Homo sapiens: one gene and its partners. The protein of the gene in region 1 binds, or shares a complex with, the protein of each later gene. Each region holds a gene or a part of one and is shown in the gene's direction. Other genes may lie near its edges. The genes, in order: CWC15, SRRM1, GPKOW, BUD13, CWC22, PPIL2 and SNW1.

Region 1 (4,104 bases):
AGATCTAGAAGTGATAGCTAAGGATTTTAGACATTTTATATTCCACATTCTGAGAAGGAAACTCAGGGTGATTTGACTTTGAAGAAGTTGATGCTAAAATAAAAGTGAAGAAAGACAGTGTTGTAACTGATAAAGGATGGGAGGTATAAAAATAGAAACTGAGGCCGGGCACGGTGGCTCACGCCTGTAATCTCAGCACTTTGGGAGGCCGAGGTGAACGGATCACGAGGTCAGGAGTTCGAGACCAGCCTGGCCAACATGGTGAAATGACGTCTCTACTAAAAATACAAAAATTAGCCGGGCATGATGGCACGTGCCAGAGGCTGAGGCAGGAGAATCACTTGAACCTGGGAGGTGGAGGTTGCAGTGAGCTGAGATCATGCCATTGCACTCCAGCCTGGGCAACAGTGAGACTCCGTCTCAAAAAAAAAAAAAAGAAAAACTCAGTAAGACAATAAAAACAAAATAGATCAACCTCAGGTAAATTAGTAGAAATTCATGTTAACTGGATATAATTTTGTATATGGTAGTTTGTCCTATTTTAGGAGTTACTTCTTCATTCATAACTTGTCACCAAACCTAGAGACACAAGTTTACATTATTAGTAATTCAAAATAAGATTAAAATTAATCACAGTTAGGTATGACCCTTTAAAATGAAGGTAATAGTTTTGCTAAATGTGTCTTTTTGATATTCAATATGTTCTTAAATTATTAGAATATGCTTATTGATATATGCTTAAAATTTAAAGCAATTAATTTGACATGTACTTCAAGAAAGAAAATAGATTTAAATATGGATCTGTAGCATTTCACAGTTGGAAGAGACTAATTACTGTATGATATCAACCATGAAATATTTATAATAAAAATGCTAAATTATTTTATTTTGATGAGGGAGACTTTTCTAGTATGCCTCAAAAACCAAAAAAAAAAAAAAAAAGCCTGCCTTGATGCTTTTGTTGCCATAAAATCCTAATGATCAGTTTTGTTTTTTTTTTCAGTGAGCTAATATAAAAAAAATTGAACCCAGAGTTAAAATAAGTAAGTGTTAATCTTCCTTTATCATTGACAGGAACAAGAACAAAAAGCTGAAGAAGAGAGGATTCGTATGGAAAACATTCTGAGCGGAAACCCTCTCCTTAATCTCACTGGCCCATCCCAGCCTCAGGCCAACTTCAAAGTTAAAAGAAGGTACTATACAGTAACGGAGTAATGGAGTGTGTGTGTGTGTGTGTGTGTGTGTGTGTGTGTGTGTGTGTATATGTGTATGTGTATACACACAGGCATGCAGATTATAAGTTGGATAGCAAGGTGCATTGTAAAAAGCTTCTAAAAGTCCACCGTCCATTCACTGATACTCTTCTCTGTTCAATTAGGAATAATGGAAGAAGCCAAATGAAAGAAAATAAACTTATTTTCAATAGATAGTTGCAATAACCAGCTGTGTACTAGATAATGATGTAAGCACTAGGGACAGAGTAATAAACTGAGGCCCTTACATTTTAGGTGTGCATATCAAGGGTCCTCAAGATGGCCTCTCACATTCAGACACTCACTAGAAGAACTCAGGGGACTTGGTGTATAGTTAATATGCTTGGCTAAGGTAATAAAGACACACAGCTAGATTATAAAGGGAAAAGACACACACAGAGAATAGAGGAATCCATGTGCAGGTGTCACTATGCTCTGTCCCTTCCATGAGTGGTCACACAGCACATTGTTTCCCCCAGCAAGGACAGTGCAGCAACGTGTGCAGTGCTTCTGCCCAGGGAAGCCCATTAAAGATCCCGCGCCCAAGGTTTTTACTGGGAGTGGCTAGTCATGTACGCAGCTTTTGCTTAGCACATACCAAAGTCCAGACTCCTAAAAGGATAGTAGGTGTTCAGTGTAAACCACATTATTTGTAAATTATAGGCACAGTGACAGAAGATTTCTTAGATCCAAATTTTCAAATGCCAGCCAGGGGCCAGCCTTGCAAGCAGGCATTTCTAAGGATTGTAGTACTAGGCCTGCTTTTTAAATTCTGTACAGTGTGTGTGTGTTTGGAGGGGTAAAAAAGGAGGGCTGAAAAGGGAGAAAATATAAGTTGTAAATACTGTAAATCCTTCAGATGGTGATATATAAAATAAAACAGAAAAGCTTACAGGAAATGCTGAGGGAGGAAGATTGGTTGTTATTTTATATGCATTCGTCAAGGAACCACAGTGCTTAATTTTTAAACCATATTCGTTATTTTTCACCACCTCTACTGCTGTTATCTGCCATCTGGAGTGATGCAGTACTGCTGACTGCTTTCCCTTCTGGAGTGATGCAGTACTGCTACCTGCCCTCCTCTCTGGAGTGATGCAGTACTGCTGAATGCTTTCCCCTCTGGAGTGATGCATTACTGCTACCTGCCCTCCCCTTTGGAGTGATGTAGTACTGCTGACCGCTTTCCCCTCTGGAGTGATGCAGTACTGCTGACTGCTCTCCCCTCTGGAGTGATGCAGTACTCCTGATACAGTTCGGGAATTAGTCCAAGCTGGAGATAGTAGATTTGGAAGTTATCAGCTCAGATAAACTTTTTAAAGCCATAAGACAGGATGAAGTCACCTAGGGAAGGGTATAGCTAGAGAGGAGAAGTCAGAACTGAGCTTGGTATGTTTAGAGGTTAGGTAGATTATTAGTTACCAGTACCTGTTCTAATCATCTAGCCAGCCTCTAAACATTATACAAGTGCCTGATAAATATTGATTGAGTTAATTTTGAATGAAAAAGTCTAGGCTAACAAGGAGCAGCCAGTTGGGAAGGGAGGAGAACTGAAAGAAGTGAAACAAAGTGTTTCAGGAGGAGAGGAGTGATCATCGAGGACAAATACTAATGTCAGGAAAGAGCATTTTGGTGTTGGGAAGGAGGGACAAAAAGCCTGTTTGGAGTTGAGGAAAGACTGGATACAGAAAAAACTGTACTGATTATATACAAAAATAAAGCTATATAGTTTGTTCTTTTGCCTTTTTTGAATGTAAATGGAATTGGAGATAGAAACATGTCTTATATCCCAGTCATATTGATCTGCTCAGCTTGTTATGCTTCTGTGTACTGCATCAGTGATGACTTTACTGCACTGTTTTCCAAAGGTGCCCACGTTTGTTGCTCATTGTGCACTTTCCCACATTTGTTCCCATGTGCAGTTTCTCCTGACGTGTAAGCGCATGCACACATAAACACACACATATGGGCTTGTGTTATATATATATTTGTGAGGGTATCAATATTATGTATATGGGCCTGTGTTTTATATGCTAGGTGATATTCTGAAATCATGCTCTTTATTTTCTATAACACATGTATTTTATAACTTATTTATGGGTGTTTTTTTTTCGTGCTTATACATTATGGAATCCAACCAGAGTTCTGCTCTGAGCTCTTCAGCTGGTACTTCTCCTTGGTTAATGTATATGTGGGCCATATCTGAGCCTTAATTATTATACCCCAATGATTCCTTCTCCTTTTGTTGGCCTATAATGTGGATATTACAGTAGATGATTACTAAACATTAACTGATAAAAGAGGAATATCTACAATCCCCAAAACCACATAAACTACATTAAATTGATTGGCTACTATCATGTACAGATGCCTACACTAATATTAGGGTAGTCCTCGGTGCTGCTTCTTTCTATTAGACCTAAAAACATTAAATATTTATGCAATTAAAATCTATATATTTCTATTTTTTAACTCAAAAGTTTCTTTTACTGGAGAAATAATAAGAATGTTTTAATGTTCTAAGTAGGAATTGCCATTCTTGCTATAAGAAAGCAAGATTATATATTAAGGATGACATTATTCTTTTGAGTGTAATTGCTGCATCAGATGATACACATGTTGAGCATCTTTCTGTGTAACTGACTAAGCCTTGCAGTGCATGTAGTATTCTTGTCTCCTGATACAAACATTTTCAGACGTTCTGTTTGCTTTTTTTTCCTCAGGTGGGATGATGACGTTGTCTTCAAGAACTGTGCAAAAGGTGTAGATGACCAGAAGAAAGACAAAAGATTTGTAAATGACACACTGCGATCTGAATTTCACAAAAAGTTCATGGAGAAATATATTAAATAGT
Region 2 (4,104 bases), on another chromosome or scaffold:
TCCTCAGTTTGAGAGAGGGGCTTCGGGATCACTGTTTTCATAACCTCATGTACCATACTGCTTTTCAGCATTGGGAAAATTTCAGTCCATTTTCAGTTACCATGTCCAAATCTGATGCCCATGGCCCTGGCCTATTTTGTCTTTTCCTGTAAAGTTTGTACTTCTGAATATTTATTCTTTGTCTGGAGCCACAAAGCTCTCCAGGGAAAAAAACAAGTGTTTTTACCTGTTACTTTGCAAAAACACATCAAGTGATGATTTTTTTCTATTTATATCATATAGCCTAAGAGTTGCAAAAGTACCTGAACAGAGGGACCAATCCTTGTTAAAATAGGTTGATTGTTAAGAATTATTAGGTACTTTTAAAAAGCATCTGCACAGATGCTAATTTCTTGTGTTTTGGCATATACTTTTTGCAAACAAGACAAGAGTGGATATGTACATAGGAAAGAAGTAAGCCATGGTGAAAATAAGTATTTCTGTGGGTTTTGGGACAGGGCTTCCGTGTTCAAACAACCTACCCAAAGAGAGGCACTACAGGCAGTGTAGTCAGTCTCCCCTGTGACCACTGGAGCTGAATATTGGTTTGACCTACTTGGAAATAACCTCTCCCCACCACCCCGCTAAATAGAGCCAGCATCTCACTCTGTCACTCGGGCTGGAGTGCAGTGGCCCAGTCATAGCTCACTGCAGCCTCCAACCCCTGGGATTACAAGTGTGAGCCACCACACCCGGCCCAGACAACCTTTTATATTAAACTGATCCCAGCCCTCTGTGATGAAATTTCAGAGCTAGAAAAGACCTTAACAGTTGTCATCAAGAAACAGATTTTCAGGTTAGTTGACTTGGTCAAGGTCAACCAACTAGGAATAAAACTTGAGTTGTCATTCCCAGTTAAATAGTGAATACTTTTCACAACTTTCCTACCCCAGAACTCTTCTTTGATTGCTAAAGGTGAGAAATGGAGGGCAGGGTTGAAATTCTTTAGCTTCTCTATCTGGTAGTATGATTTCAGAAATTACTTTGCAGTTTCTGCTGCTTAGAACAGTAACATCATTGAAATGTAATAGATATTACAGTTAATATTTTCCCTAGTGGCCACTAATCAGGGCTTTAGGGCTCTGCTCTTGATAGTGGGCAAATGGAGTGGGAGGGAGGCAGGAAAAGTGTTTTGGGGAACTTACAGGTTAATTATTTGGAATACAGTATACAGTCATCTGAAGGGATCTTAGGGGAAACATTTGTAATTACTGACATTTCATAAATTGGCATTATCTTAGTACATAAAATAGTGCTTGAAATCAGTGGCACAGTCAGCGAAGTATGTTAACATGATCAATACTGGTGGTGACGGTGTGGTAATTTTGATTTATTTAGATTAGCTTGGCCACATACATTGTGCTATCTGGACACTTAAATGGTTATTTTACTATTGTTGGTCACAGAGTAACTTATCTTTATAAGTGATCTTTTGGGCAGGTCTAAGATTAATAATTAATAGGACTGTTGGAGTAAATTTAAAATTGTGGTTTTAAAGTTGCCTTCTACGATTTCTGACTTCATGCTAGAATGATTTTGTCCCTTGAATACTTAAAACAACATTAACATAAAGTAAATGGTGTAAAGTCTCATCTAGAAAAATAGAAATCTGAAGTGCTGTTATAATATTAATAATGCTGTGATTCAATTGTATTAAACCAGAGTAGGAGTATATAAATGATAGTTGTTTGATGGTATAAATTTTTTTTTTTTTTTTTTTGGAGACGGAGTCTTGCTCTGTCGCCCAGGCTGGAGTGCAATGGTGCAGTCTTGGCTCACTGCAACCTCTGCCTCCCAGGTTCAAGCAATTCTCCTGCCTCAGCCTCACGAGTAGCTGGGATTACAGGCACATGCCACCACACCCAGCTAATACAAATGTATTAATAAAGACTACTTTAGCTGAGTAATTAGTGAGAAATTGAATCAGGATGCAACTCCAGATGTGTATTTCCACTGGGGGAGAATGGAAATAATGTTAAATTCACTTGTATTATATAATGAGTAGGCTTTTGCCAACTATCTTGTAAGCATAACCACATTTTTAATGTTTCTTAGGGGAAAATGTATCCAAACAATCAGCTTCCAAAGCAAGCTTGGGAACCCAGTTCTCTAAGGTGTGGTAACTTGGACATGCACTTTTTAACGACGTGCCCATAATATCTTTGCAGAAATTGAGGATTAAGTAACACTTAAAAATAGAGAATATGGACTTAGAAAAAGAGCCTCAAATAGTTAACAATTTTAAAATATTTTTATTTCTTTGAATTTGTTAAAATATAAGTATTAAGTATAGTTTGCTATTTGCACTGTCATGATTCCTGATATCTAATTGAGTGATAGCCATTCTTTACCCAATCCAGTGATTTGTCCAAATGGCTTATTACGTAGAAATTTTAAGAAAAGTCGCTGGGCGCGGTGGCTCACGCCTGTAATCCCAGCACTTTGGGAGGCAGAGGTGGGTGGATCACCCGAGGTTGGGAGTTCAAGACCCGCGTGACCAACATGGAGAAACCCTGTCTCTACTAAAAATACAAAATTAGCCGGGCGTGGTTGGCGCATGCCTGTAATCCCAGCTACTCAGGTGGCTGAGGCAGGAGAATCCCTTGAACCCGGGAGGCGGAGGTTGCAGTGAGCCGAGATCATGCCATTGCACTCCAGCCTAGGCAACAAGAGCGAAACTCTGTCTCAAAAAAAAAAAAAGAGAGAGAAAGGGAAAAGTCTGTTCATTGAAAAGGCATACTGGTAAATTCTTCATTTTGACTTCTTTAGCAAAGATGCGATTACTGTGTTAGATCACTGGTTCTCTAATTACTGCCCCTTGGAATAAACCATTACAGAATTCTGAATGTGAGTGTCTGTTAAATGAGATGTATCTGTATTCTGAGTCAAACATTCCATGGCAATTGCTTTAATCACACAAAACAGGTATCAGGATCCTGAGAGGATCAAATTGTCTGTAGGTTTATTTCTTATTGGGATGTTCTCAAGTGGTGTTTTAGGTTAATTTATGGTATATATATGTTTATATGTGAATATACTTATGATTTTAGTTGTAGCAATGGATAGATACTATAAGCAGAGTTAGTTGTTGAGATTAAAACCCATGGCCTAAAAATAGATTCTTGGATTCACATCTTAGCTCACTTAAATTGTCTTTGTGACTGAGGTGAAGTTGCTTCTTTTTAAGCCTCAGGTTTCCTCTCTTGTGAAATGGAACAGGGAGAAAGGGATGTGATACTACTGTGTTAATAGTGTGTCTAATACAGCAGGCTTACAAAAGGTAGTTACCATATTTCTATGTTATTGGTAAAAGACAATTGGATAATTCATAGGATACCCACTGCTCTCCTACTACTTGAGGTATAGAAATGCCTTTTTTTCTTTCTAGCTCTTTGGAAAGAATCCTCGTCTTTGTATTTAATCATTTTTACTATTTGTGGCGGTCTGCTTTTTTTCATGGGTAGTTTAAATCCCCTGTGCTATTGTGAAGATTATGCTCTACATAAAGAACCTTTAACCTGTTGGGCAGTCATTCTTCTTTTCTAGACCAAATATCTTTGTGAAAGTTTCATGAGATCTTATTTCTTAATCATTTATCATCTTTTACTTTTCTGAACCCACCTATTGTGGTTGCTTAAAAGCTTTCATGTTGATGAAGTCTCTGAAGTTGAGTGTGAGGGAGTGAGTGTGGGTGTGGAGGGTGTGTATTTTAGATTGTGGAGCTCGTGTAGCACACAGAGGTTTACTTTACTGAGCTTGTTCTACTCAGTAGCAGCTCCCAATTTCCTTTAACTGTTGGTTTTCTTGGGAGAATCTCAAGATTTGAAAATCATTGTAGAACTTTTTGAGGCTTTTCATTAAACATTTAAAAATTCTTGTCTCACTTCAGATAATGTTCAGATATGACAACAAGGTCTTACAGGAATTTTTTAAGTCTTCATAAATTCTTTTTGAGAGTAGTCACACCCATTTTTGTAATAGCAGGAAGGCATCTTGGCTGGGCACAGTGGCTTGTGCCTGTAATCCCAACACTTTGGGAGGCTCAGGCAGGAGGATTGCTTGAGG
Region 3 (4,104 bases), on another chromosome or scaffold:
AGATCAGCCTCAAGGGCTGGTGCCTGGAGGAGCTGTGGTGGTTCTTTCTGGCCCTCACCGAGGCCTCTATGGGAAGGTAAGGAACCAAGATATCCCGGGAGCCCAAAACAGGCAGCAGGGAAGGTTGATCCGAGGGTCAGATGGAGGAATAATTGGATTTGAGGTAGAAAGGCTGGGACTCCTAGTCTTTTAGGTCTGCTTGGCCCACTGCCTCACTCAGTAACCCAGGACCACTTGCTGGCCTTTGTGAGCCTCAGTTCCCAGCTAAAAGGAAGAGAATGCCATATGCCACAAGTCCCTGAAGATTAAATGCTTAAAGGATCCAAGGAAGCCCCACAGTCAGCTGAGGGAGACACAGGAACCAGACCTGGTCCCACTTCTCAGGGGTCAGAGTCTGGTTGGGGAGACAGAGGAAGCAGGCCTCTTAGAGGTAAGGGGTTGACATCTTGGTCCTAGGAATGTGGGTGGAGTCCACAACCCCTACCTGACTTCTTCCCCTCAACACTTTAGGTGGAAGGCCTTGATCCTGACAATGTTCGGGCCATGGTTCGTCTGGCTGTGGGGAGCCGGGTGGTGACTGTTAGTGAGTACTACCTGCGGCCTGTCTCCCAGCAGGAGTTTGACAAGAACACCTTGGATCTCAGTGAGTGAGCCTCTTGTAGAGCTAGGGGAGTTGGCAACGCATTCCTAGGGGTGGCAGGGCCTGGCTAATGGGGTGGTTTTAGATCTGCAGCAGGGAGGGGCAGCAGTGTGCCTGGCAGATATGACTTCCAATCAGAGGTCAGGAGGTGAGAATGGACATAAGTGACTTACTCCATTTGATTGGAGAAAGGTCGATGTCATACCCCTGGGTCTGTAGCCTGTCTGAGTGAGAAGAAACAGGTGCAGAAACCAATTCCTACCTTCGAGATCTTTGTCCATTTGGGGTGATGAACCTCTCTTTTACTAGGGAGTGAGAACTGCTAGGATTAGGGTGTGACCAAGAAGGAAGGAATTCTAGGCAGACAGAACAGCACAGGCGAAGGCGTTTCGGTAGGACGGGGCAGTTTGGCAAATGGGTACAGACAGAGCTCTCTGGGAATCTCTAGTCCACACTAGGTGAGCATTGTTGTTGTGGGCTAGGTTGGCTGCGGGAGGGTTCCTGAAGGAAGCTGAAATGGTTGAGAGGTGGGGGAGAGGCATTCTACTAGCAAATGCATGAGGGGTGAGAGGGGCACTTTGGCAGGTGGGAGGTGGCTCTAGGCTGAGACATGGCCTTGGAAGGAAAGGGCAGTGAGACACTGAGGCTCTGTCCTGGTTCTCCTCATAACCTCTTGAACAGGCCAGATGAGCAAAACTTCCTTCCCCAGGGCAACAGAACGGAACTGCCTCATCACGGAAGACCCTCTGGAATCAAGAACTCTACATCCAGCAGGACAACTCAGAGAGGAAGCGGAAACACCTTCCAGACCGGTGGGACTCTGAGCATGCGGGAGGGGTCAAGAAGGCAGGGCTGTGGGTAGGCTCGAGCAGCCAGGGAAGGCTTCCAAGGCAAGGCGGGCTCATAGAAGGAACGGGGAACTGCATTGTGGGTGGGTTTCATAGCATAGGCAAAGGGAGGGCAACTGGAAAGTGCATCTGATGAAGAGCTAAGCCTGGTGCTGGCACCTTCTCCACAGACAGGATGGGCCTGCAGCCAAGAGTGAGAAAGCAGCCCCCAGAAGTCAGCACTGGTTGCACAGGGACCTGCGTGTGCGGTTTGTGGACAACATGTACAAAGGAGGCCAATATTACAACACCAAGGTGGGAACCCTGCAGCCTGAGTCCCCCTCCCTCTCCTAGGGACTGGGCCCCCCTACCTCTCTAAAATCTCACATCCCCCTGACCTGTATCCCCAGATGATAATTGAAGATGTCCTAAGCCCAGATACCTGTGTATGTCGGACAGATGAAGGCCGAGTCCTGGAAGGTGAGTTTGAGCGATGGCAGCTGGAGGTTGATCAAGAAGAGTGTTTTAGGCCCAGAGCCTGGCCCAGGCAAAGCTGGGAGGTTTGGCAGAGTTCAGGTATTTTGCAAGGCCTAGCATCCTCTTACAGAACATTAGACACTTCCATGATGGTGGTTGGTTATCTTGAGCCCCACTCTCCCAGTCTGTCAAGTTTTCTTTTTTTTCTTTTTTTTTTTTTTTGAGACAGAGTCTCACTCTGTCACCCAGGCTGGAGTGCAGTGGCGTGATCTCAGCTCACTGCAACCTCCACTTCCCAGGTTCAAGCGATTTTCCTGCCTCAGCCTCCCGAGTAGCTGGGATTACAGGCAAGCGTCACCACACCTGGCTAATTTTTGTGTTTTTAGTAGAGACAGGGTTTCACCATGTTGACCATGCTGGTCTTGGAACTCCTGACCTTAAGTGATCCTCCCACCTCGGCCTCCCAAAGTGCTGGGATTACAAGCGTGAGCCACCGCGCTCGGCCTCCGGTCTGTCAAATTAGCATGGAATTTACTATTTCTTCCTCTTGTGATTGGTGCCTTAGTGAAGGAATGTGTATTGAGCTCTCAGTGCAGGGCAGGGGTTAAAACATGCCCACAATAAAAGGTGCCTGTTGTTATCACCACCACCCTTTATTACAGTGATTTTTGTAAACTACTCCTTAGGCTACCTCATCTGTGAAATGGATGTGGCGGGACTCCCATCTGTCAACAGGGTGTAGAGTGGCTCCAGGGAATACAGGAAAGGCCCTTCTTTTTTTTTTTTTTTTTTTTTTTTTTTTTTTTGAAACAGAGTCACTCTGTCACCCAGGCTGGAGTGCAGTGACGCAATCTTGGCTCACTGCAACCTCCGCCTCCCGGGTTCAAGCTATTCTTCTGCCTCAGCCTCCTGAGTAGCTGGAACTACAGGTGCCCGCTACCACACCCAGCTAATTTTGGTATTTTTAATAGAGACAGGTTTTCACCATATTGGCCAAGCTGGTCTTGAACCCCTTACCTCGTGATCCTCCTGCCTCAGCCTCCCAAAGTGCTGGGATTACAGGCATGAGCCACCACACCCAGCTGAAAGGCCCTTCTTTTTTTTTTTTTTCTTTTTTTTTTTTTGAGATTGGGTCTCATTTTATCACCTATGCTGGAGTGCAGTGGCACCATCATGGATCACTGCCACCTCAAATTCCTGGTTTCAAGCCATCCTCTCACCTCAGCCTCCTGAGTAGCTGGGACTGCAGGCACTGACCACCATGCCTGGCTAATTTTAAAATTTTTTGTAGGCTGGGCGCGGTGGCTCATGCCTGTAATCCCAGCACTTTGGGAGACCGAGGAGGGTGGATCACCTGAGGTCAGGAGTTTGAGACCAGCCTGACCAACATGTCAAAACCCCATCTCTACTAAAAATACAAAATTAGCCAAACGCAGTAGTGGGTGCCTGTAATCCCAGCTACTCAGGAGGCTGAGGCAGGAGAATCGTTTGAACCCAGGAGGCGGAGGTTGCAGTGAGCCAAGACCACACCATTGCACTCCAGCCTGGGCAACAAGAGCCAAACTCAGTCTCAAAAAACAAAACAAAAAAATCTGTAGAGATGAGGTCTGACCATCTTGCCCAGGTTGGTCTCGAACTCCTGGGCTCAAGCGATCCTCCCAACTTAGCCTCCCAAAGTGCTGGGACTACAGGTGTGAGCCACCACGCCTGGCCAGGAAAGGCCCTTCTGACAGGACGCTGGTTGGGCTGGTCCTTGCTGTGGGCCTCACTCCCCTCTCCCTTATCCATAGGCCTGAGGGAAGACATGCTGGAGACCCTGGTTCCCAAGGCAGAGGGTGACCGTGTGATGGTGGTGCTGGGCCCACAGACTGGAAGGGTGAGTCTCAGACCTGGCAGTAGAGGTTTGTGGGTCGTTCAGGGCCTGTCCCAGGGTCTAGGCTTGCCTTGCTGATTCCACTTCACCTCTGTTCCAGGTGGGACATTTGCTGAGCCGGGACAGAGCACGGAGCCGGGCTTTGGTGCAACTGCCAAGAGAAAATCAGGTGGTGGAGCTTCACTACGATGCCATCTGCCAGTACATGGGCCCTAGTGACACAGATGATGACTGACCCATGGGACTCCTCCCATCCCCCAGGCTGGTACCAGTTCTGTACCATATGA
Region 4 (4,104 bases), about 22 Mb from region 1:
CTCAGCCTCCCAAATAGCTGGGATTACAGGCGCCTGCCACCATGCCCAGCTAATTTTTGTGTTTTTGGTAGAGACGGGGTTTCACCGTGTTGCCTAGGCTGGTCATGAACTCCTGGGCTCAAGCAATCCACCCGCCTCAGCCTCCCAAAGTGCTAGGATTACAGGAATGAGCCACCGCACCTGGCCATTTTCTTTTATAATATTGTCTTGCTTTTATGATGGCCCAAAAACCTAAACAAAGGAGGCTTTAGTGCCACTGCTCTCTGCATTGGTTAAAACAGATCTTGATTACTGAATTCATTTTTGTAACTGCAAGATCACCACCACCACCAGTAATAATGGTAAAACGATTATGATGATTACGATAGCAGTGGCAGCACAGGAATAATTAATAGGTGTCATTTATTGGGCATTTATCATGTACCAAGCATGGCTAAGCTTACGTGAATTATCTCATTCAATCCTTATAGCAATCCTTTGAATCCCACTTTTACAAATGAGGAAATTGAGGCTTAGAATAATTTACCAAAGGTTACACAAATGCTAAGTGGCCGAGCTGGGGTTTAGATCTTAATTCATCTTGCCCGAAACCTGTGCTTTTAACGCTCAGTGAGAGATCTCAAAACTGGGTTATATGAAGAATGATGGTAGGATTTTGGGAGAAGTAGAGGGCTATTATGACCTGGATTTAAATTCCAGTTCTGCCACTTGTTAGCTTGTGACATTGAGAAAGTTACTGAACTTCTCCGAATCAGTTTGCTATTCAGTAGTGTGGAGCCTTTCTTTACAGGATTATTGTGAGAATCGAGTTAGATTATATGAGTAAACCACAAAACACAGTACCTTGCACATAGTTGCTACTCTGTAACTAGGATTTATTATGCCAGCAATCTTGAAAGTTTGTCATGTGGACTTACATCACAGGTCAGAACTAGAATGAATTCAAAGAAGTTATAGGAAGGCAGATACGGTACTAGTAAAACTAAGAACTTTCTAACATTTTTGAAAAATGCAGTGGACTGTGTTGTAAGATAATGAGTTCCTTGTCAGGAAGGGATTGGGCGAGTGACCACTTATTAGGAATACTATAGAGAAGATTCTGATTTGTTCAGAAGTTTAGAAGATATGAAATGTGGTTTTAGCTCTTAAAGATTAATGATTCTGTGTACATCTCAGTGGCTCTTTTTGGTTGTATTCAAGAAAACCTATCACTGTGACTACCTACAACAAGAAAGGATTCATAGAAACCCAAAGTCCTTGATTAGTGCTAGGCATGATGGGGGGAGCCACCTATGTTTCCACTGTTAATGTAGAAGTAAAAGTGTAAAAGGAATTTAGTTGTTAGTTTACAAGTGGCTGTTGTGTACCTAGCAGGTTAATAAAAAGGTTTGTAATGAAAAAAATTAACCTTTGCAGGGTAATTGATTAATTAGAGAAGGATCTACAATTAAACCAATACAGTGACAATCAGATGTTTATGGAGCAAACATAACTGAAGACCCCTACTTACTTCTTCATGACCATTTTGGATATATGTACGCCCTTGTGTTAGGAATCGGAATGGTTGTAACTTCAGGTTCTTGAGACAGTGCTTCTTGGCTGGATCCTGTGGATTTCCTAAGATAGGAAATCTTTACTCTCACAGGTGGCAGAGTTTGTGGATGAGCGGCCAGAAGAGGTAAAGCAGATGGAGGCCTTTCGTTCCAGTGCCAAATGGAAGCTTCTGGGAGGTGAGTTCCAACAATAGATAAATCTAAATTTCCATTAGTAGGGGAGATCTTTTTTCCTTTTCTATACTTTTCTTTAGAGGAATGCATAGTTTGTTTTAGCATGTCATTGATCCTGAAAAATAAAGCAGGAAAAAGGAAGTTGGACTTCTTCAGAGGTAGTAAGACATAGGAACTTATAGACCAGATATTCCTCTTTCTCTTATATTTTGGCATTAGGATTACTGAGGTTGGTGACTAATTTGGAGGCCTTTGAGCACCCATTCCTCTTTGACTCAGAATAGGAGAGCACTTGGTGTATAGGCAAGACTTTGGGAGGAGTTTACAAGAAACAGGAGCAGAATTTGGGGACTTTAGCTACCACTATCCTCTTCCACAATGAAGCAACTCATTTCTGGGGGGTCAAGGACCAGTGTATTTTGTTCTGTTTGTGTTAGTAAATTTCTCTCTTCTTTCCTTAAGTATTGGTGTTTTATAGTGCATTACCCTCCACTTGCCCACTTTGGACTCTTCCTAAGCTAATAATCTTAATTTAACTCTCTTTAAAAAAATTTGAGTCCTTGAGAATTGGATAAAAAGCATTTGTTTGTCACATCTGTTTGAGCATAGACTAGTCTTATTTGCCATGATATTCCCCTATCTAGCACAAGGAGCTACCTTTAATAAATATTTGTAGAATTGTTTAATTGCTAGTAGGTATTTGATTTTTGTAGCCTAATCAGAATTCTTTTCCAAAGAGAATCTTTTGGTCTCCATGTCTGTTTGTCTAGGAAGACACACAGACACACACATACACACGGTGCCTTTTCTTGTGTATCTGAATGTTTAGAAGGTCAGTCACACACACACACAGTCACACTCACACTCACTCACTCCTTTTCTTCTGCCTTGCTTTCACTCCCCCATCCCAATTTGTTATTGGAAGTACGCTTACCAATCTCTGACCCTTGCTTCCTTCAGATTTACTGTTAGGCCCCCCACAGACATCATACTTTTCTCTGTGGAGTGGATTCCAATCAGATAGGGCTGTTCCCCAAAGTAAAGGAGTTGACTTGGTTTAATTCATCCATTTAACAAGTATTCATCAGTTCCTACCCAGCTTTTATTTGTATTTGGGCTGTGGAGCTCAATGACAAGAAATAGAGGTAGAGGAAGAACTGGATTTTGAAACTGTTCCAGTTGCTATAGATATTTCATTCTGTGGTGCCTTTGAATATGGAAGGTCTCAAACTATGTATTTTAACTTTAAAGCTTTACATATTTTAAAGATTGCACATGGACTCTGGAGTCAAATAGAGCTGGATTTAAATATTCCTCTACCACTTATTAGCAATATGACTTTGGCAAGTTAATCTTTCTGAGTATCAACTTCCTCATCTATAAATGAAATGACAGTATTTATGTCCTAGGCTTGTTGTGAGAATTGAATCAGGTAATCTCTATGAAACACTGGCACACAGTAGGTGATTGGTAATTACTTGCTCCTTTCTTTTTTATGGTGATTTTTCCCCTCTCTAAGAAAGAGCACAGTGAAATGGATTAAATAGTTAACAGCATTTTATTTTGATATTCACCGTTTTAGTCAATTTACCTATTGAAAGAAGAGTGAGTACAAACTATAAAGTATCTAGGCAAAATATCAGTAGGAGCCACTAGCTGGGAACTCTGCACAAATGAGGTTTTAGAAAGAACATTGGACTGGGAGTTAGAAGACTTGGATTCTAGCCTGTGTCTTCATTTTAGGAGCTGTGACCTTAGGTAAGAAATCACTCAGCTCCTCAGCTGAAAACAGAGGCTGTGGCCTCTGTTTTCATGCTGTAATACAAGGGTACCTGCCCTGCTTACCTTAAAGGGTATAATATGAAAAATGTGCTGAAAATGCTTTGCAAATTTATGACTTGGTAGGCGGAGGGGTTATTCTTAAGATATTCATGAGTGGTGGTTTGCTGCCCCTAAGCAAGAAAACTGTGCAGGCCTTTTGGGCTTTCTGAGCAGTTCTGAGGTATGTGCTACTGGAGCATCTTTTGAAACTGGGTGTGGGGGTGGACAGAGGGACAGAGCATTTGTGGGAATCTGACTCTTTGTTATTTGTGTTTAGGCCACAACGAAGACCTACCCTCAAACAGACATTTTCGTCACGATACCCCGGATTCATCTCCTAGGAGGGTCCGTCATGGTACCCCAGATCCATCTCCTAGGAAGGACCGTCATGACACCCCGGATCCATCTCCTAGGAGGGCCCGTCATGACACCCCGGATCCTTCTCCCCTCAGAGGGGCTCGTCATGACTCAGACACATCTCCTCCCAGGAGGATCCGTCATGACTCCTCAGACACTTCACCCCCAAGGAGGGCCCGTCATGATTCTCCAGATCCTT
Region 5 (4,104 bases), on another chromosome or scaffold:
TTGGGTTTAGTTTATAGGTTAACTTTCCACCTTTATTTTTCAGCAACTTTGCCTGACTGCTTCAAAATTTGTGGCGCATCTTATTAACCAAAATGTGGTAAGTAATTATCTTCAATACTTGGTCCCATTCAGTGGCATTAGACCAGAGGGTTGATGCCACTTCACTGATACCTCTCTATTTTTGCTTTGCTTTATAGTCCTTGGGATAAAAATGTTGGATGATATTTTCATTTTAAAACTATAATAAATATATTTAATGTTCTTTTTTTTTTTCTTTTTTTGAGATGGAGTCTCACTCTGTCGCCCAGGCTGGAGTGCAGTGGCACAATCTTGGCTCACTGCAAGCTCTGCCTCCTGGGTTCACACCATTCTCCTGCCTCAGCCTCCCGAGTAGCTGGGACTACGGGCACCTGCCACCACGCCCGGCTAGTTTTTTTTGTATTTTTAGTAGAGACGGGGTTTCACCATGTTAGCCAGGATGGTCTCGATCTCCTGAACTCGTGATCCACCAGCCTCGGCCTCCCAAAGTGTTGAGATTACAGGTGTGAGCCACCACGCCTGGCCATATTTAATATTCTTTAATATAACACTTTGATGCTGATCAAAACACTTTAGATATTTATCAAATTAATCTGACTTAATACTGTACATGGTTACTTGACTGCAAACCATTCCTTTGAAGAACCATTCCCTTCATTTTTATAAAACAATAAAGTTGGTATCTCCTCCACTTCATTCCCTGCTGTTCATGAGAATCTAATAAATATCTGATATTCTACAAAAACCTCTATTCCTTGCAACCACACAGGTATAGTCATATATTTTTAGAATCACTTGATAGAATAGAGTTGATCGATTTTAATCTGTTTCAAATGCAGGTAATTTTATCATGCTGTTATTCAGTTTGTGTTTATTTTATATTCATTATTTGATGGTTTTGATTTAGCTTTTATTTAACCATGAAAATGCTAAAATTGTCCTTGCTCATACTCAAAAGTTTCCTTCAGATATATATTATCATTTCCAATTTAATATCATGTATAACAGGAAGAATTTTAAAGTCATGCTTAGTCTTATTTCACTAATATTAAATATTTTGATTCTTATTTACATGAAAATTCTTTCACTCTTACAAATCTTTTAGATTTTGACCTAATTAGTCATCATATTATTACAGTGATAACTTGCTACTTAAGACCATGGAAACTTAATTTCACATCTGTAACCAGAGATATATTTCCGTTTTTAAATGTGTATTACACTTAGACTAGAGATTTTTGGCATTGCCATGAAACACTCGATATGATAAATTTTTTGCATCTTCCAGCTGTGGTACAGGGCAGTATTTTCTTGTCACTGACCTAAGACTGTTTGACACCCCTCCTCCCCTAGTAAAAAGAAGTAGTGGGTGTCTTTGATGTTGTGCACAGCTGGAAGAAGATATCTCCTGAGTTGAGATTTAGACTTCTTTCCTCACCATCTTAAATCACTGTCTGACTTTAGAAAGGCATATGTATGGTGTTTTAAACATTCTTTGTTGTTCGTTTTCTTCTCTTAGCAAACTTCTCAATAGAATTTTATTCCCACTCTTCCTGGCATTGTTTATAAATGTCAGTTTTTGAACGTGGCCAGTAATAGTTTGATTTAATTTTTTAAAAAAAGATAGACTATTCAAAACTGTTGTGTTCCAGAAGTTGTTAAGATATTTTGTGATAAAATTAGTATTCATGTAACTTAAGGACTATTTGTGTCTAATAGAGTTGCTGATAGAATGAATTGGGAAATGTATATAAAGAATTGTGATCATGGAGAAGGGTATTATAAATCATATTACTATTTCTTATGTAGTAATTATGAAAATAATTACCTTATTAGAAAGTAGTATATGATTTTTAACATATTTTATCTATGACACTTTCCGTACATAATGGCTAAGAATATTTCTTCTGAAGATAATTCAAATAGTTGTATTCAGCATAGAAAATTAAGATTTTTGAAACAGTCATCTGAAAATTCTTAGTAGACAGATAATAAAAGTGATAGAAAAATTGTATCCCATATTTGGAGTATTTCCATGTGCTTTATAAAACTTTGCCCATCATATGTGCAATATAATTATTGTAAACAGATTTACTAATTTTTAGAAATTATAAAAATAATTTAATGTATGTAAAAGCATTTTGTTTCTTCCTTGTATATGTATTTTATTTAAGGCACACGAAGTATTATGCTTAGAGATGCTCACTTTGCTCCTGGAAAGACCAACAGATGATAGCGTTGAAGTAGCTATTGGTTTTCTTAAGGAATGTGGCCTCAAATTAACACAAGTGTCACCAAGAGGAATCAATGGTAAGTGTACATTCATAGTTTGATGTTAAGTTTTTATTATATTTATTGCTTATTTTATTGTCTTTTCTTTCTGTTAACTTTTAGCTATATTTGAACGCCTTCGAAACATTCTGCATGAGTCTGAAATTGACAAAAGAGTTCAATATATGATTGAAGTGATGTTTGCTGTACGGAAAGATGGATTCAAGGACCACCCCATTATCCTAGAAGGTCTTGATTTGGTGGAAGAAGATGATCAATTCACTCATATGCTCCCTCTGGAGGATGACTATAATCCAGAAGATGTTCTTAGTAAGTCCGGGGCATGTTAGTTGGAAAGAGGCTTACCAACAAATGTAAATATAGAAAATAAACATTAACTTTTACATTTTTTTTAGATGTTTTCAAGATGGATCCTAATTTTATGGAGAATGAAGAGAAGTACAAAGCTATTAAGAAAGGTATGTAAAATTTTATAAAATAATTTAGTTTGGATAAGTAGAAGCAATTTAAGTAGTTACGTAATACTGATAGCAAATATTTAGAGATCCCCACCTAATGAATCGCTGCTCTTATAAAGTTATTCTCTTAGCTGTTTCCTCGGGCATTATTTTTTTCCTGGTGCTTGCCCAGGGTTTTTTACTTCATTCTGAATTACTTACCCCATTGTTCTTTCCTCTTTCCCTCTAAACTATGCAACACTTACGTCTCACCCATCTTAAGAAATATTCATAGATTAGTGGTGGCCTTTATTTAGCTTCTCTACCATTTACATTCTGTGCCACCCAGTTTAGTATTCAATTAAGTGGTATACTTTATTGTAAAGTGCTATACTTTATTGTTTCTTGAGGTCAGGTTAATATCCTTCTGGTAGGATGAATCATAGTATTGGTGCCTCTCTGATAAAATAAATTGATCATTTTCATTTGTACATCATTGGTATATTGTAAGTACTAACTTTGGACAGGTTTTGATGTGTAATTTATCTTTGACATTACTAGCTGAGTGACCTGTAGCAAGTTACTTGTTTGTTGGAAGACTAAATGTTACCTTTCTATGGAAGGATATATAAAACACAGTGTTGTGTATTATCACCTACAATGATAGCTATTATTAGTTACTATTTTCACATTTGTATTATTTTCCTCCTAAAGCTAACACTCAGGCCTACTTACATAATAATTTTATGGGCTTATTTCTCTTGAGTTGTAATTTTACTGGAGAAGTATTTATTGCTGTGGAAGCAATAAAATTTACCTTTGTATTAAACCCCAAAAGTTTGTATTAAAAGCTCTCTGATTATAATAGAAATGTAAAGAGTTGGTTAGCTTTGCAAAATCTTTTATCAGGCTAACAGCACCATTGGGCAAAATGTAATTTTAGTTTTTGTCATTTGTTTGCTTTTAACATAAAGACCAGCCTTATGTAGTCTCATATACAGAGAAAGCAGAAACCTAGAACTCTGTCTCTGTCTGCATTCCATTGTTCAGTAGTGCTTAGAAGTAGAAGGTTGAAATGAAAAGTAAAATTGGGAGAAATCTTCCATTCCTCTGCATTATCCTAAAAACCTGTTATAATAATGAGTTTCTCTTCTTAGATGCTGATTTCCTAGGAGCTTTTCACTGTAATATGCCAGATTCTTTTTTTCTGTTATAATTTCATTTCCAAACAGAGAACTCCATAGATCCATTTTGCCTTCTTTTCTTATGAACCTCTTTTCCTACAGTCTCCCTGAAAAATGCCAAATGTTTTTTGTGAAATTCTTAGATACACCTG
Region 6 (4,104 bases), on another chromosome or scaffold:
GCTGGCTGGAGCGTGGCCTGCTGAGTCAATCACCTCTGTGGCTTGTCCCATTCTAACCAGAGGTCGGCCCACGGCTGCCCACGTTCCGGTCCGATAGCTCCCTAACAGCAATGAATGCTCGTTAGCCATGTGCCTGGAGGAAGGTCACAGCTCAGCCAGCAGCTAGCGAGGCTGCGTCCCCGTCCCTGCCCCTGCCCCTGTTTGCTGCCCTGCCTGGGGCAGACCACCTCCTCCCTCATGCCCTGCTTGACTCCCCCAACCTCAGTGTAGCCCTGGCCTCTTCCACACCTCTGACAGCTGGCCGTCCTTTGCTGCATGTGGCTGCCATTTGGCCGTAGGCTGGGTTCACTCTGCTGGGCATTCTCTTTTTGCCACAGGACCCCACCAATTTGGACAAGTTCAATGTCTCTAACTTCTATCATGTGAAGAATAACATGAAAATAATAGACCCAGGTATGTACACCTAGGGGCTGGGCTAGGCGAGGGGGCTTTTGGATGAAATTGGGACAGTGCTCCCTGGGTAAAGCCCCCGCTTTCCTGGAGGTCAGGGGGTCCCAGCCCAGACAGGCCCTGCATTTTCTGAACTAGTGTTCAGAGAATCTGAGCCAACTGCAGCCTCAGAAACAATGGGCGGGATAGACTTGCTGCCCTGCCAGCACACCTGCTCAGGTTCCCCTGCTCCCTGCAGACTGGCCGGTGCTGTCAGTGGGCAGGTGGTGGGGTGATGGGGTCCTCCTGTTTCCCTGGCCTCTGGTGGCTGTCCTGCAGCCTTGGAGGAGCCAGCAGGACTCATGTTCAGAGGTCACTCGGCCTTGTGCTGCAGAGCAGTGGCCTGGGCACTTTGTGAGCATTGTTTGAACGGGTTTTAGGTAGGCTGAGCACGTGAACTGGGGAAGATTTGAGTCAGGAGAGCCTGAGGTCAGGGTTGGGGCTGGGCCGTGTCTGTGCTCTCTGCACAGGGATGCCGGCCCCTCTCCACAGGGTGGGCTGCTGTCCAAGGCCCAGTAGGCAGCAGGCACCCTCCTGAGTCGGCAAGAATGGGTGATTTCACATCTGGAAAGACCCCCAAACACTTCTATTATTTTAAATAAAAATAACCTTTAAAATTACAGAAGCAAAGCAACTGGGTGTGGTGGCTTATGCCTGTAACCCCAGCACTTTGGGAGGCCAAGGCAGGCGGATTGCTTGAGCTCAAGAGTTCGAGACCAGCCTGGGCAACATGGGGACACCCTGTCTCTACAAAAAATAGAAAAATTAGCTGGGTGTAGTTGGTGCGCCTGTAGCCCCAGCTACTTGGGGGGCTGAGGCAGGAGAATCGATTGAGCCCAGGAGGTGGAGGCTACAGTGAGCTGAGATCTTGCAACCGCTTTCTAGCTGGGGCGACAGAGCTAGACCCTGTCTCAAAAGGCTGGGCGCGGTGGGTCACGCCTGTAATCCCAGCACTTTGGGAGGCTGAGGCAGGCGGATCACGAGGTTACAAGATTGTAACACAAAAAAATTAGCCGGGCGTGGTGGCGGGCGCCTGTAGTCCCAGCTACTCAGGAGGCTGAGGCAGGAGAATGGCGTGAACCTGGGAGGCAGAACTTGCAGTGAGCCGAGATTGCACCACTGCACTCCAGCCTGGACGATAGAGCGAGACTCCATCTCCACAAAAAAAAAAAAAAAAAAAAAGAAAAAAAAAGCAAAGCGTATACTCTAAAAAGATTAGAATATACAGATAAATATAAAATATACAAATCAACCTGAAGTCCATCCTGAGACCCTTGTGAACTGCCTGGGGAGACCTTCAGGCCTGTAGCGGGGCACTGTGGCATTCTGTGGCTGGCAGTGGCACGGTGCCTGCGCCATGGCTGGACGGCCCTGGGCTATTCTAGATCTGTGTCCCCAGCACGTGTGTGGGGAGGCTACTGGGGGCTCGGCGGCTCAGGGCCATGCTACTGTTTTGTAGATGAAGAGAAGGCCAAACAGGACCCGTCTTATTATCTGAAAAATACAAATGCCGAGACCCGAGAGACCCTGCAGGAGCTCTACAAGGAGTTCAAAGGGGACGAGATTCTGGCAGCCACCATGAAGGCCCCGGAGAAGAAGAAAGTGGACAAGCTGAACGCTGTGAGTGGCGGAGGGCACTCGGCCAAGCCCAAGCCCCGTCTTCCTGCCCATCTCATGGCCTCTTGGAGTGGTCCTGGGAAAGGGGCTCATGGGGGCCTGGGATACACGGCAGGGAGGCAGCCAGGATCCCCCAGAGCTGTGGTGCCCCTGATGGCTCTGAGTGCACAGCCCTGGGGCTGCCCTGAGGCAGATAGAATCTGAGAAGGCAGAAGGGGAGGGGCTGATGTCCACACTGGTCGTTGAAGAACCAAGGGGTGTGTGGGGGCATGTAGGGGAGATCCCTGCCACAGAAGGTCTGCCTTGTGCTGTGGTCCCAGCCTGAGCTCAGTAGCCAGGGCAGGCACGTTGAGCGGGCACATGTGGTTCTGTGGTGGCTGGGAGGGCAGGGCCCGATGTGCACTGGGGCCCAAAGCCATGCCAGGGAGAGTTGGGGCGTTTCATGGTCTGCTGCGGTGCTGACGTGGATGGCATGCCTGGGACTGCACGGTGCCACCTGTCTGGGGCTGTCGTGTTTGCTTCTTCCTCCTGTCAGGCAGAGCATGGGGATCTGGAGCTAGGGGGAGGGCAGAGACATGGGCAGGTAGCTCTGAAGTTCTCCTTCTTAAAGAATTATTCAAATTCTGGAAAATTTGAAAAAGAAAGCTTGTTGTCCAGTGTGTCACTCCGTCTAACACACTGCCCTTAGCACTTTGATATATTACTTTTTTTTTTCTTTTGGAAACAGGATCTTGCTATGTTGTCTAAGCTGGTCTTGAATTCCTGGCTTCAAGTGAGAGCCTCCTGCCTTGGCCTCCGAAAGTGCTGGAATTACAGGTGTGAGCCACTGTGCCTGGCTTGTATTTTCTTCTGATGGGAGAAACCCCTTTTTCTTCCTCTATGATAAAAAATAACATTTATTGGGGCTTTTCCCCGACCCCTGATTAAATATGTAATGTGTTTAGTGTAGAAAGTTTGAAACTTTTAAAAAGAAATGAGGCCAGGCGTGGTGGCTCACACCTGTAATCCCAGCATTTTGGGAGGCTGAGGCAGGAGGATTGCTTGAGGCCAGGAGATCAAGACTAGGTTAGACAACATAGTGAGACCTTATCTCTACAAAAAATCAGCCAGGCGTGGTGGCATGCGCCTGTCGTCCCAGCTACTCAGGAGGCTGAGGTCGGAGGGTCACTTGAGCCCAGGAGTTGGAGGCTGCAGTGCACCAGGATCACACACCACTGCACTCCAGCCTGGGTACAGAGCAAGACCTTGTCTCATAAAAAAATTAAAATAAAAATAAATGAGAAGTCAGCCATACACTCCTAACCCTGAGGTGGCCAGTCCTGTGTGGTATTTTATCTCCAGGGTTTCACCTGATATCATAAGAGTCGGGATCCAGTGGAGGCCAGGGGACCCTGGCTTGGCCTAGCCTTGGCTTCTTCCTCCTGCTGGTTGGGGAGGCCCTCCTGGAGGAGAGGCACCAAGCAGGGCCTGGGGGGCAGGGGTGGCGTGTGGTTGGCTTCTAGGCAAGCGACACGTCCCCACCCAACTGCCTCCCATGGCACTGCTGAGGTGCCACCCTGGTTTCCTTGGCAGGCCCACTATTCCACAGGGAAGGTCAGCGCTTCCTTCACCTCCACCGCGATGGTCCCGGAGACCACACATGAAGCAGGTAGCCACCTTGGCCTCTGTAGCCACCTGCCATGTGACCCAAAAGTGGCAGGGGGTGGGTGTGCTCCCCGACTCCCACTTTATTGGTCTGTCAGGGGCTCCCACTGTCACCTGAGCCCCTAGTCCTCCCCCTCTTAGCTGCTGAACCCCTGCCAGCCCCATGAGGCTGGGGTGAGCCTGTGCGTGGCCTAAGCAGACCCTCGGCCTCCAGCTCCCCTGCTCTCCCCAGAGCTGGAGCCTAGTCCCCGCCTGTGTGTCTGAGGTCGGTGCTGCCTGGCATGGTGGGGCTGCCCCAGGGTGAGGGCAGGGGCTGAGCTGGGACCTTGGCTTGTAGCTGCCATCGACGAGGAT
Region 7 (4,104 bases), on another chromosome or scaffold:
CATGTTGGTCAGGCTGGTCTTGAAATCCTGACCTCAGGTGATCCACCCACCTCGGCCTCCCAAAGTGCTGGGATTACAGGCGTGAGCCACCGTGCCCTCCCCGTTTTTATTGTTTTAATACGGGAGACAGATAATAACCATGTAAAGTAGATAATTTCATGCTGTGAACAGTCTTGATCACAGTAAACAGTGCTATGGAGCAAATGATTGGGTGGGGAGGGGTTACTACTAAGGCAATCAGAAGAAGCCTCGATAATGGAGGACCTTTGATCTGAGACACACAGATTGAGAGCTTACTTGAAGAATGATAAACAGAACTCTGTAAAGGCCTAGAATTGGGGAAAAGTATGTTATGTTCAAGAAACAGAAGATGAGCTAGTGTGACTGAAGCATAATGAGTGAGAGAGTGAGAGTTGTAAGGGGAGATTGAAGGCATAGGCAAAGTCAGGTCAAGTTGCATAAGCCATAAAGTGGCTCACACTTTTTTGCTCTGTTTGGAGTAGAAAATTAGAAATAGCATGCATTTCCTTTAAACTTTTTTAATGAATGATGTATGATAGACTTATTAATATAAGACTTTGGCTTGTAGTGGTAAACAGTTCTACAAAAAAAAATTCTGGAGATCTCAAGTGCCTAGGAATTTGATTTTCTTTGATATTTATAAGTTGTCCTTTCTTTTTATGTACCTCAAAGAATTTCTGACTAAAGCATTAAAGGTAGAATGCCTATTATTTATTGAATTTTCTGTATCTCTCTCTTTTTTTTTTTTTTTTTTTTTTTAATATACAGTGTCTTGCTCTGTCACCCAGGCTGGAGTGCAGTGACGCAATCTTGGCTTACTGCAAGCTCTTCCTCCCGGGTTAAAGCCATTCTCCTGCCTCAGCCTCCCGAGTAGCTGGGACTACAGGCGCCTGCCACCACAACTGGCTAATTTTTTGTATTTTTAGTAGAGACGGGGTTTCACCATGTTAGCTAGTATGGTTTCGATCTCCTGACCACATGATCCAGCCACCTCAGCCTCCCAAAGTGCTGGGATTACAGGCGTGAGCCACCGCGCCCGGCCCCTCTGTATCTCTTTTTTACTTTAAAATATGCCATGTAAATTGTTATGAAAATATTTAAGAAGTATAGATGGACCTGAAAGTAACCAGTATTCTATTTGTTAAGAGCCTACCACATCAGTGTCAGCCTAATAGAAACCATGTTGGGCATAGTAGAAGTCATATAACAGGCCTCAATTTGGATAATGGATATAAAATAAGTTGTATATATAGAATATATTTTTCTTTTTCTTTTTTTTTTTCTTTTGTCTTCTCATGGAAGAAAGCATTCTGGGTTTTTTAACTGTGGCACATGTTTATTTTCTTAGTCTGTGAATAGAGTTGATGGCAGAAAAGAGAAGCGTTATAAATAGGATGAGGTCAATAAAATTTTTCAGGCCCAGTGAATTTGGAAATTATTTGGTAACCTGACTTAAATTCTGATGAGTTTGTAATCCAGGTTAATGGTGCTATAGGCAATTTGTATTATCATTAATTTCAAGTTTTAGTGGGCCTCAAAAATAGTGATCATCAATGCATGATTTTGTTGGCATGGTTTATTTGGATACTAACTTGATTAGAAGATCTCAAACAATTTAAATGCATGAGGTCAAGGGAAAATTACTAACTTACAGCCAGGGTAGCAATTTGTTTATATATTTTAAGCTTCCTTGGTTTTAAAATCTAAAAGAGAAAATCTGAGTGTCCTAAATTTTTAAGTGTGCTGAGAGGGCATGTTGACATCTGAAATGGCTAATGAGGTTTCTTTTCGTTGTTTGCTTTTCTTAAGCCTGCTTGTGTTTGAACATTTTAGGTCATTTATAGCAAATACACTGACCTGGTTCCAAAGGAGGTTATGAATGCAGATGATCCAGACCTGCAAAGGCCCGATGAAGAAGCTATTAAAGAGGTAACTGGGAATTGATATATTCGATGACTATTTACATCCTGATTAACTTCCAAACTCTCAATGTGATATTTCCTATTTCAGATAACAGAAAAGACAAGAGTAGCCTTAGAAAAATCTGTATCACAGAAGGTCGCCGCAGCCATGCCAGTTCGAGCAGCTGACAAATTGGCTCCTGCTCAGTATATCCGGTATGAATCATGCCTAGAAGACTTAGTTTCATTCTGAACTTGATTCAGCTTGGGGGGTCATGGTATTCTTTCACTAACCCACTTAGCAACCATTATAAATGCATTGTTTTCAATAATGACTCAAAGCCTGTCTACTGTCTTTGCAGACAATTGAAAGCAGAATTTTTTAAGGTGTCCACTTTGGTTTTTGTTTGTTTTCTGAGATAAAGTTTCTGTGTTGCCCAGGCTGGAGTACGGTGACACCAACACAGCTCACTGCAGCCCCCACCTCCTGGGCTCAGGTGATCCTCCTGCCTTGATGCCACCATGCCTGGCTAATATTTTAATTTTTTGTAGAGACAGGGTCTCGCTGTGATGCTCAGGCTGTTTTCGAACTCCTGGGCTCAAGCAGTCCTCCTGCCTTGTCATCCCAAAGTGCTGAGATTACAGACTTGAGCCACCAGACTTGGCCTCTTTTTATGCTTTTTTTTGGGGTGGGGGACAGAATCTTGCTCTGTTGCCCAGGCTGGAGTGCAGTGGTGTGATCTTGGCTCACTGTAACCTCTGCCTCCCAAGAGATTCTTCTGCCTCAGCCTCCTGAGTAGCTGGGATTACAGGTGCCCACCACCATACCTGGCTAATTTTTGTATTTTTTTTAGTAGAGACAGGGTTTCACCATGTTGGCCAGGCTGGTCTCGAACTCCTGAACTCAAATGATCCATCCTCCTCAGGTCCCAAAGTGCTGGGATTATAGGCGTGAGCCACTGTGCCCAGCCTATGCTATTTTCTTTTTTTTTTTTTTTTTTTGAGATGGAGTCTCACTCTGTCACCCAGGCTGGAATGCAGTGGCACAATCTTGGCTCACTGCAACCTCTGCCTCCTGGGTTCAAGCGATTCTCCTGCCTCAACCTCCTGAGTAGCTGGGATTACAGGCTTGCACCACCATGCTCAGCTAATTTTTGTATTTTTAGTAGAGACAGGGTTTCACCACGTTGGCCAAGGCTGGTCTCAAACTCCTGACCTCAGATGATCTGCCCACCTCGGCCTCCCAATGTGCTGGGATTACAGGCATGAGCCACCCGGCCTGGCCCTATGCTATTTTCAAATTATATTTTTTGTTTTTAGAAATTAACAGTTACTTGTGGTATATGACCTAAATCACAATTATTATTTATAGTTTTCCATTTATAAGTAATAGATATCTTTATAATACTTCTAAATTTTGAGGCGTTTTACTTGACTAAATCTGCATAGAGAATTGAATCACATACAGATATTGAGGAAAAATTCAGAGCTGGTAGGGCTGCTGTCATTATTCTTTTCTCTGTTTTATAACCTATGATTAATCAAAAACTGCTAACCGTAAGTTGCCTGCTGGGATTATTATGAGTGTTTTTTCCTCAGATGCAGGCATACTAAATAGGTACTATTTTCTAGACTGCTTATCTGTGAAACTGAACACGGCACCTTCCATGTTGGAAAACATATGAGGATGGGTTATTTGCAAACTAATACCACTCAAGTTTATATTTTGACTGTAACTCATAATTTATGTTCTTTTATCCCTCTTGCTGTCTGCTTTGTCTAAATATTTTGTTAATTTTCTGTTAATACTTTGCGAAAGGAATTGAAAATGTAGTCTAGCTTAAGATTGTAATAGAAGGAAAATACCTACTGAAAGCTTGAACTAATTACACCTTTAGTTTTTATCTGCTTTCTTCAGATACACACCATCTCAGCAAGGAGTGGCATTCAACTCTGGAGCTAAACAGAGGGTTATTCGGATGGTAGAAATGCAGAAAGATCCAATGGAGCCTCCAAGGTTCAAGTAAGTGAAAAGGAATAGGCTACTAATACACACAATAACATGGATGAATCTCAAAACAATATGCTGAGTGAAAGAAGCCAGGCAAAAACAAGTACATACAGTATGATTCCATTTATCTAAAACTCCAGGAAATGCAAACTAACCTATAGTTACAGAAAG

The links.
Region 2: CWC15 (region 1) and SRRM1 share a complex: the UniProt entries of both Homo sapiens proteins name them as parts of the minor spliceosome.
Region 3: CWC15 (region 1) and GPKOW share a complex: the UniProt entries of both Homo sapiens proteins name them as parts of the minor spliceosome.
Region 4: CWC15 (region 1) and BUD13 share a complex: the UniProt entries of both Homo sapiens proteins name them as parts of the minor spliceosome.
Region 5: CWC15 (region 1) and CWC22 share a complex: the UniProt entries of both Homo sapiens proteins name them as parts of the minor spliceosome.
Region 6: CWC15 (region 1) and PPIL2 share a complex: the UniProt entries of both Homo sapiens proteins name them as parts of the minor spliceosome.
Region 7: CWC15 (region 1) and SNW1 share a complex: the UniProt entries of both Homo sapiens proteins name them as parts of the minor spliceosome.

The regions. Positions count from the first base shown.
Region 1 is NC_000011.10:94,963,384-94,967,487, reverse strand, and holds part of CWC15 (spliceosome-associated protein CWC15 homolog), read left to right. Parts: intron 1-1,074; coding exon 1,075-1,193; intron 1,194-3,973; coding exon 3,974-4,103; 3' UTR 4,104-4,104. UniProt on the Homo sapiens protein: Involved in pre-mRNA splicing as component of the spliceosome. Component of the PRP19-CDC5L complex that forms an integral part of the spliceosome and is required for activating pre-mRNA splicing.
Region 2 is NC_000001.11:24,656,469-24,660,572, forward strand, and holds part of SRRM1 (serine/arginine repetitive matrix protein 1), read left to right. Parts: intron 1-4,104. UniProt on the Homo sapiens protein: Part of pre- and post-splicing multiprotein mRNP complexes. As a component of the minor spliceosome, involved in the splicing of U12-type introns in pre-mRNAs. Involved in numerous pre-mRNA processing events.
Region 3 is NC_000023.11:49,113,569-49,117,672, reverse strand, and holds part of GPKOW (G-patch domain and KOW motifs-containing protein), read left to right. Parts: coding exon 1-76; intron 77-510; coding exon 511-643; intron 644-1,349; coding exon 1,350-1,452; intron 1,453-1,658; coding exon 1,659-1,782; intron 1,783-1,877; coding exon 1,878-1,947; intron 1,948-3,734; coding exon 3,735-3,820; intron 3,821-3,917; coding exon 3,918-4,052; 3' UTR 4,053-4,104. UniProt on the Homo sapiens protein: RNA-binding protein involved in pre-mRNA splicing. As a component of the minor spliceosome, involved in the splicing of U12-type introns in pre-mRNAs.
Region 4 is NC_000011.10:116,762,988-116,767,091, reverse strand, and holds part of BUD13 (BUD13 homolog), read left to right. Parts: intron 1-1,645; coding exon 1,646-1,730; intron 1,731-3,825; coding exon 3,826-4,104. UniProt on the Homo sapiens protein: Involved in pre-mRNA splicing as component of the activated spliceosome. As a component of the minor spliceosome, involved in the splicing of U12-type introns in pre-mRNAs.
Region 5 is NC_000002.12:179,969,186-179,973,289, reverse strand, and holds part of CWC22 (pre-mRNA-splicing factor CWC22 homolog), read left to right. Parts: intron 1-43; coding exon 44-97; intron 98-2,213; coding exon 2,214-2,349; intron 2,350-2,433; coding exon 2,434-2,640; intron 2,641-2,726; coding exon 2,727-2,789; intron 2,790-4,104. UniProt on the Homo sapiens protein: Required for pre-mRNA splicing as component of the spliceosome. As a component of the minor spliceosome, involved in the splicing of U12-type introns in pre-mRNAs. Promotes exon-junction complex (EJC) assembly.
Region 6 is NC_000022.11:21,682,805-21,686,908, forward strand, and holds part of PPIL2 (RING-type E3 ubiquitin-protein ligase PPIL2), read left to right. Parts: intron 1-377; coding exon 378-453; intron 454-1,948; coding exon 1,949-2,109; intron 2,110-3,678; coding exon 3,679-3,754; intron 3,755-4,087; coding exon 4,088-4,104. UniProt on the Homo sapiens protein: Has a ubiquitin-protein ligase activity acting as an E3 ubiquitin protein ligase or as an ubiquitin-ubiquitin ligase promoting elongation of ubiquitin chains on substrates.
Region 7 is NC_000014.9:77,736,812-77,740,915, reverse strand, and holds part of SNW1 (SNW domain-containing protein 1), read left to right. Parts: intron 1-1,854; coding exon 1,855-1,950; intron 1,951-2,031; coding exon 2,032-2,138; intron 2,139-3,840; coding exon 3,841-3,945; intron 3,946-4,104. UniProt on the Homo sapiens protein: Involved in pre-mRNA splicing as component of the spliceosome. As a component of the minor spliceosome, involved in the splicing of U12-type introns in pre-mRNAs.